2 separate regions of the Homo sapiens genome follow, and region 2 is linked to region 1. The links come from fine-mapping of genetic effects on gene expression. A gene starts in region 1. The other region holds a variant in brackets. All regions are shown on one strand. Distances are from middle to middle.

What was found. PIP is the estimated chance that this variant, and not a neighbour inherited with it, causes the effect.
Region 2: its variant is the best candidate, but not a certain one, in a credible set for the expression of RRP36 in B cells (Fairfax 2012, PIP 0.89).

Annotation. Positions count from the first base shown.
Region 1 is chr6:43,020,342-43,023,251 of GRCh38, forward strand. It overlaps RRP36 (ribosomal RNA processing 36), which reads left to right and starts at 1,282. Exons shown (of 7, transcript NM_033112.4): 1 at 1,282-1,443. The coding sequence starts at 1,314. It overlaps KLHDC3 (kelch domain containing 3), which reads left to right. Exons shown (of 11, transcript NM_057161.4): 11 at 326-953. The coding sequence ends at 392. RefSeq lists enhancers at 834-1,565, 964-1,073, 1,134-1,183, 1,566-2,297 and silencers at 1,274-1,343, 1,354-1,403, 1,414-1,483.
Region 2 is chr6:42,952,062-42,954,971 of GRCh38, forward strand. All of the region lies in intron 1 of CNPY3-GNMT (CNPY3-GNMT readthrough), which reads left to right. Among named protein-coding and RNA genes, the nearest start is that of GNMT, 7.2 kb to the right of the region's middle. The variant A/T (reference allele first, on the strand shown) is at 1,691.

The DNA of each region.
Region 1 (2,910 bases):
TAAGCAAAGCAGGAAAGGCAGGTTGGGATGTTGACTGACATGTATACACAGATCTCAGGTGCCTGGACACTGCAATATACATACATACATAAACATAAACCGGAAATCCATATGAGCTTGGAGGTAGAGGAGTGGGTGGTGTTGGATTTGGTGGTGGGTGGGTTCTGATTGTTCAACCTAGTAGGTCTCTTAAGTAAGAGGTGGCTGTGGGTGGTTGACCTTTAGGAAGTTGGAGAGACTGGTGTGTTTTTAGCTTGGTTCAAACATCCCTTAGCTTGGGCTGAGGGCCCCCTCTTCTTTCTGTCTCTTATTGTTGGCCTTCCAGGTGGGAGCTGAATGCCATGACCACCAACAGCAATATCAGTCGCCCCATCGTCTCCTCCCATGGGTAGGAGGAAGTTTCTGCCACCTCCCCTCCTGAGCCTGCTGTCATCTTCACTGCCCCTGCCCATCTGTCACCCACCTGCTCCTTTGACCCCTGGACTTGGTATACCTCCATGTGGAGTTGTTGGGCGAGAGGTGTTCTCTGTGCTGTGAATTCAGTGGGGAGCTGTAGCGGGGTGGGGGCTAGGTTCCTCCCCCCTTGGGCCGAGGGCCCCTTCCCCTTGGTGCTCTGTCCCCATCCACCTCCTTTCAGCTGCTCCTGGGCCTCAGCTCTGCCCAGGGCCAGCCAGGTTCTGCTGGGAAGGGAAGGGAATGGGGAGAAGGGAGAAGCAAGCAGTGTCTGAGCCTCAGGAGCTTCCCCCTCCCCCTTTGCCTATCCCCTCCCCTCTGCTTGAGCCTTGAGCCTTGACTGGGAGCTGAAAGGAGTTGCAGCTGTTGGCATGAGACCTCCTTCTCCCCGTCTTGGGGAGGTGGGGACCAGCAGATAAATCCCACCCTTCCTTGAGCTGTCGCTGTACTCTGAAGTTCAGCCAGCTCAGATTTTATAAAAATTAATTAAAATCTCCAAACGTGTTGTGTGTTTTTGTGGAATATGGTGGAGAAGGCTGGAGTTTGCAGTGGGGGCAGGGTGCCGAGGACAAGCACCCTGAGGTTCTGGCTTCTCAGCCAAGGGTATTAGGAAACCAAATGCCACCAAGGCCTGGTCCAAGCTTCTCGGGCGTGGAACCCAGCACCCTGCGACTCGGGCAGAAGGTTGCGACAATGTCTCCAGAGCGGGTTATCCTTTGGGCCCGGCTCCCTGGCCCTCGACCGCGCAGTTTTCTGCCCATTCGTCACCACGTTGAGACCGGGAACGCCGGAAGAGGCGGGGCAGGGGCTGCCGTGAGCGGAAGCGGCGCCATTCGTCTTCCGAGCGCTACTGCCAGCTGATGCCGGGAGCTAACTACCGCGCCGGGGCCGGGGCCGGGGCCGGGGCCCGACGTCCCCGCGGGGCCCGGGACCGCGAGGAGGACGGCGGGGGCCTGGAGCCCGCGGCCGTGGCCCGCGACCTATTGAGGGGTGAGGGCATGGGGCAGGGCGGGCTGGGGAGGGGAAGGAGATTCCCAGGCGGGGCCCTGAGCCTGCAGAGACGGTGCCGGTAAGACTGCCAAGTTCTCTAAGAGGCAGACGCTACACTAGGGGTGCCCCCAGTGCAGTGGAAAGTGGGGGGTGAGAGTAGATGCTTCCGGGATTAGGACATCCTGAGAAGTTTCTTCACGGCAGGATGAGGGTTTTCGGCGATGGGGAACGTATGTGCAATAGCATGGAGGCAGGAAAAGGCATGCATGGCTGCTGAAGGCTTAGTAGATCAGAATTCAGCAGATTCCGTAGACTTTGTTTTTTTAATTTTTTTTTTTTGAGACGGAGTCTCTCTCTGTCGCCAAGGCTGGAGTGCAGTGGCGCGATGTCGGCAAGCTCCGCCTCCCGGGTTCACGCCATTCTGCTGCCTCAGCCTCCAGAGCAGCTGGGACTACAGGCGCCCGCCACCACGCCCGGCTAATTTTTTGTATTTTTAGTAGAGACGGGGTCTCACCTTGTTAGCCAGGATGGTCTCGATCTCCTGACCTCGTGATCCGCCCGCCTCAGCCTCCCAAAGTGCTGGGATTCCAGGCGTGAGCCACTGCGCCCAGCCTGTTTTTTAAATTTTTTATATTTTTTATTTTTTTGAGACAAAGTCTCGCCCTGTAGCCCAGGCTGGAGTGTAGTTGCACCATGACGGCTCACTGCGGCCTCGAACTCCCGGGCCCAAGAGATCCTCCTACCTCAGCCTTTCGAGTAGCTGGGACTGCAGGCGCGTCACCACGCCTGCACGGATGGGTTTGTTTATTTATTTATTTATTTATTTAATGTAGAAACAAGGTCTCACCTTTTTTTTTTTTTTTTTTTTGACGGCGTCTCGCTCTGTTGCCCATGCTGGAGTGCAGTAGCGCGATCTCAGCTCACTGCAAGCTCCGCCTCCCGTGTTTACGCCATTCTCCTGCCTCAGCCTCCCGAGTAGTGGGACTACAGGCGCCCGCCACCACGCCCGGCTAATTTTTTGTATTTTTAGTAGAGATGGGGTTTCACCGTGTTAGCCAGGATGGTCTCTATCTCCTGACCTCGTGATCCGCCCGCCTCGGCCTCCCAAAGTGCTGGGATTACAGGCGTGAGCCACCTCGCCCAGCCAGGTCTCATCATGTTACCAGGTGCCAGGGCTGGTCTCCAGTTCCTGGGCTCAAGTGATCCACCCGCCTCAGCCTCCCAAGGATTACAGGATTACTGTGCCCAGCAAATGCTGCAGGCTTTTTGTTAAGGCACAGTTCTAGCTGCTGGAGATAGTTGTGAATAAAGTAGTCAAACACTCCTATCCTGGCCGGGTGTGGTGGATCACACCTGTAATCCCAGCACCAGGGGAGACTGAAGCAGGAGGATCGCTTGAGCCCAGGAGTTCAAGACCAGCCTGGTAAACATAATGAGACCCGCTTTTCTACTAAAAATAAAAAAATT
Region 2 (2,910 bases), 68 kb before region 1:
TGTCTTCACCTGGAACTGGCTGGAAGCTTTGTTGCATGATCAGCTGAAGCTTGATGGTCTCTAGGCAAGAGGAAATGAATTTGGTTAAAACATTTAATGGGAACTGCAGGGGGTGGATACCTATGCTGTTAGAAATGTTTGTTATATTGACCAGGCGCAGTGGCTTACGTCTGTAATCCCAGCACTTTGGGAGGCCGAGGCAGGCAGATCACGAGGTCAGGAGTTCAGGATCAGCCTGGCCAACATAGTGAAACCCTGTCTCTACTAAATACAAAAAAATTAGCCGGGCGGGGTGGTGCATGCCTGTAATCCTAGCTACTCAGGAGGCTGAGGCAGGAATGTTGCTTGAACCTGGGAGGTGGAGGTTGCAATAAGCTGAGATTGAGCCACTGCACTCCAGTCTGGGGGCGAGGGAGTGAGACTCCGTCTCAGAAAAAAAAAAAAAGAAAGGTTTGTCATAGAGATTTGCAGGAGAAAAAAAACTTGGTCTGTTTTAGAATCTATGTGTTTCCTTAAAGTCCTAGCATGAGCGACTCCATTTTGGTTTGGTTTGTTGAGGCCTAGTGCATGAGCCTAGTCCAAAACAATGGCCTTCCATAATTTTGTTTAAAAAATTACCCTTTTTGGTTAGGCTGTCATTTAAGTGAGAGTGTGACCAAACCTTAGGGACTTAGCGCCACTCTCAGTTACCATCATTTTGGGTTTCCTATCTCAGCACATCATTTATAGCTTATAGTGTCCTTATGGTTGCACATTTTTTTAGCTCCTGTTATTCCAGTTGAAGAGAGACCATTTGACATTCTAGAGATGGCTGCACGCAAGCATTTAAAACCTTTGAGAGAATAGAGCGCACCAGGGAGACTATTATTATGACTATCGGGAGGATGATACCAAGAGTTTGGAGTATGCTCCTTACCCAGGTTCCCCATAAACCAAACCACCTAAAATCACATAGATCAAAGAATGAACTAGATAAAGAGTTTACTCATGGCCGGGCGTGGTGGCTCATGTCTGTAATCCCAGCACTTTGGGAGGCCGAGATGGGCAGATCACCTGAGGTCGGGAGTTCAAGACCAGCCTGACCAACATGGTGAAACCCCGTCTCTACTAAAAACACAAAATTAGCCAGGCATGGTGGTGCATGCCTGTAGTCCCAGCTACTCGGGAGGCTGAGGCAGGAGAATCGCTTGAACCCGGGAGGCAGAGGTTGCGGTGAGCCGAGATCGTGCCATTGCACTCCAGCCTGGGCAACAAGAGCAAAACTCCGTCTCAAAAAAAAAAAAAAGTTTACTCATTTGACTAAGCAGTCTCTTTGTTAATCCCCTACCACTATATTTCTATAATCTTCATGTGATGTATTTCTCCGTAGGCCACAAGTGCCAGCAGCTGCACAGATACTTCTCTGTTTAGCCAATTCTATCTTAACTTTCACAAGAGAATTTAAAGTCTATTGTATAACTGTAGCCTTTACAGTAGAATTTGCTATAGAACCCATCATGAGGGATACTTTTTTTTTTTTGAGACGAAGTTTCGCTTTTGTTGCCCAGGCTAGAGTGCAATGGCACCATCTTGGCTCACTGCAACCTCTGCCTCCCGGGTTCAAGCGATTCTCATGCCTCAGCCTCCCGAGTAGCTGGGATTACAGGTGCACCACCATGCCCAGCTAATTTTTATGTATATATATATATAT[A/T]TTTTTTTAGTAGAGATGGGGTTTCACCACATTGGCTAGACTGGTCTCAACCTCCTGACTTCAGGTGATCCACCTGCCTCGGCCTCCCAAAGTGCTGGGATTACAGGCATAAGCCACCGTGCCTGGCCCCATTAAAGTTTTTTACCTGCACTGGGCCTTCATTTTTTATCTATTAAAGTATAAAGTTATCCATATATAAGGTTGGCTGCAAACTCCTTCACAAATAAAAGTACATCCCATTAGTGCACATAACAGATGCCTTTTCCACTTTTATTGTTCATAGAGGCATAAGCAAGAACAAATATTGAAAGATAAGAGTTTTATGACAGTAGAAGTCTTAATCTGTGAATTTGGGAAAAGCTTATTTACATCAAAGATGCCATCCTCGGTCAGGCGCAGTGGCTCACGCCTGTGATCCCAGCACTTTGGGAGGCTGAGGCGGGCGGATCACCTGAGATCAGGAGTTAGAAAGCAGCTTGTCCAACATGGTGAAACCCCGTCTCTACTAAAAATATAAAAATTAGCCTGATGTGGTGGCGAGCACCTGTATACTTGGGAGGCTGAGGTAGGAGAATCGCTATTATAAAAAGTAGAGGTTCCTCTTCAAAGACTTTCCTCCCCATCTAATTAGGGATAAATAGTAACTTCTCTTAGAAGCAAAATTTATTCAAAGATCTGTGGTGACATTCTTAAATATCTGCAAGTCATAATAAAGAAATCAATGTCCTTTATGTTCTTAGCTCCCACAATGTAGCCTAAATATTTGCCCTGGCATGCTTATACTGGTCCAAACAAACATTAGGTCATAGCCTGTTCCTCATCCTTATTTGAAGGTGTTTTTACCTTTCTCAGCATTCCACAAGTTACTTCCCCTTCCTTTGTTCTCCTCTGCCTTTGCCTCTTTTAAAAGTTCTAAGTTGCTAGCCAATCGGGACAAATACAAAATGTGAAGTCCCATTCCAGCCAATGGAAACCGGACACAGCAGTAGGGTGGACGCGTCAGGTTATAAATGACCCTGTCTCCTTTGTTCAGTGTACTCTCATGGCAAAACTGCTGACGAGGGTACCCTTTCTGCAGAAAGTAAAAATGGCCTTCCTGAGGAAATTGAATTTATGTTCAAGTGCTATTTCTTTACGGCACTGGGGAACAAGCATTTCTTTTTTAATTTTTTTTATATTTAATATTAAACATTTAATATATTAAGTGAATACATTCAAAT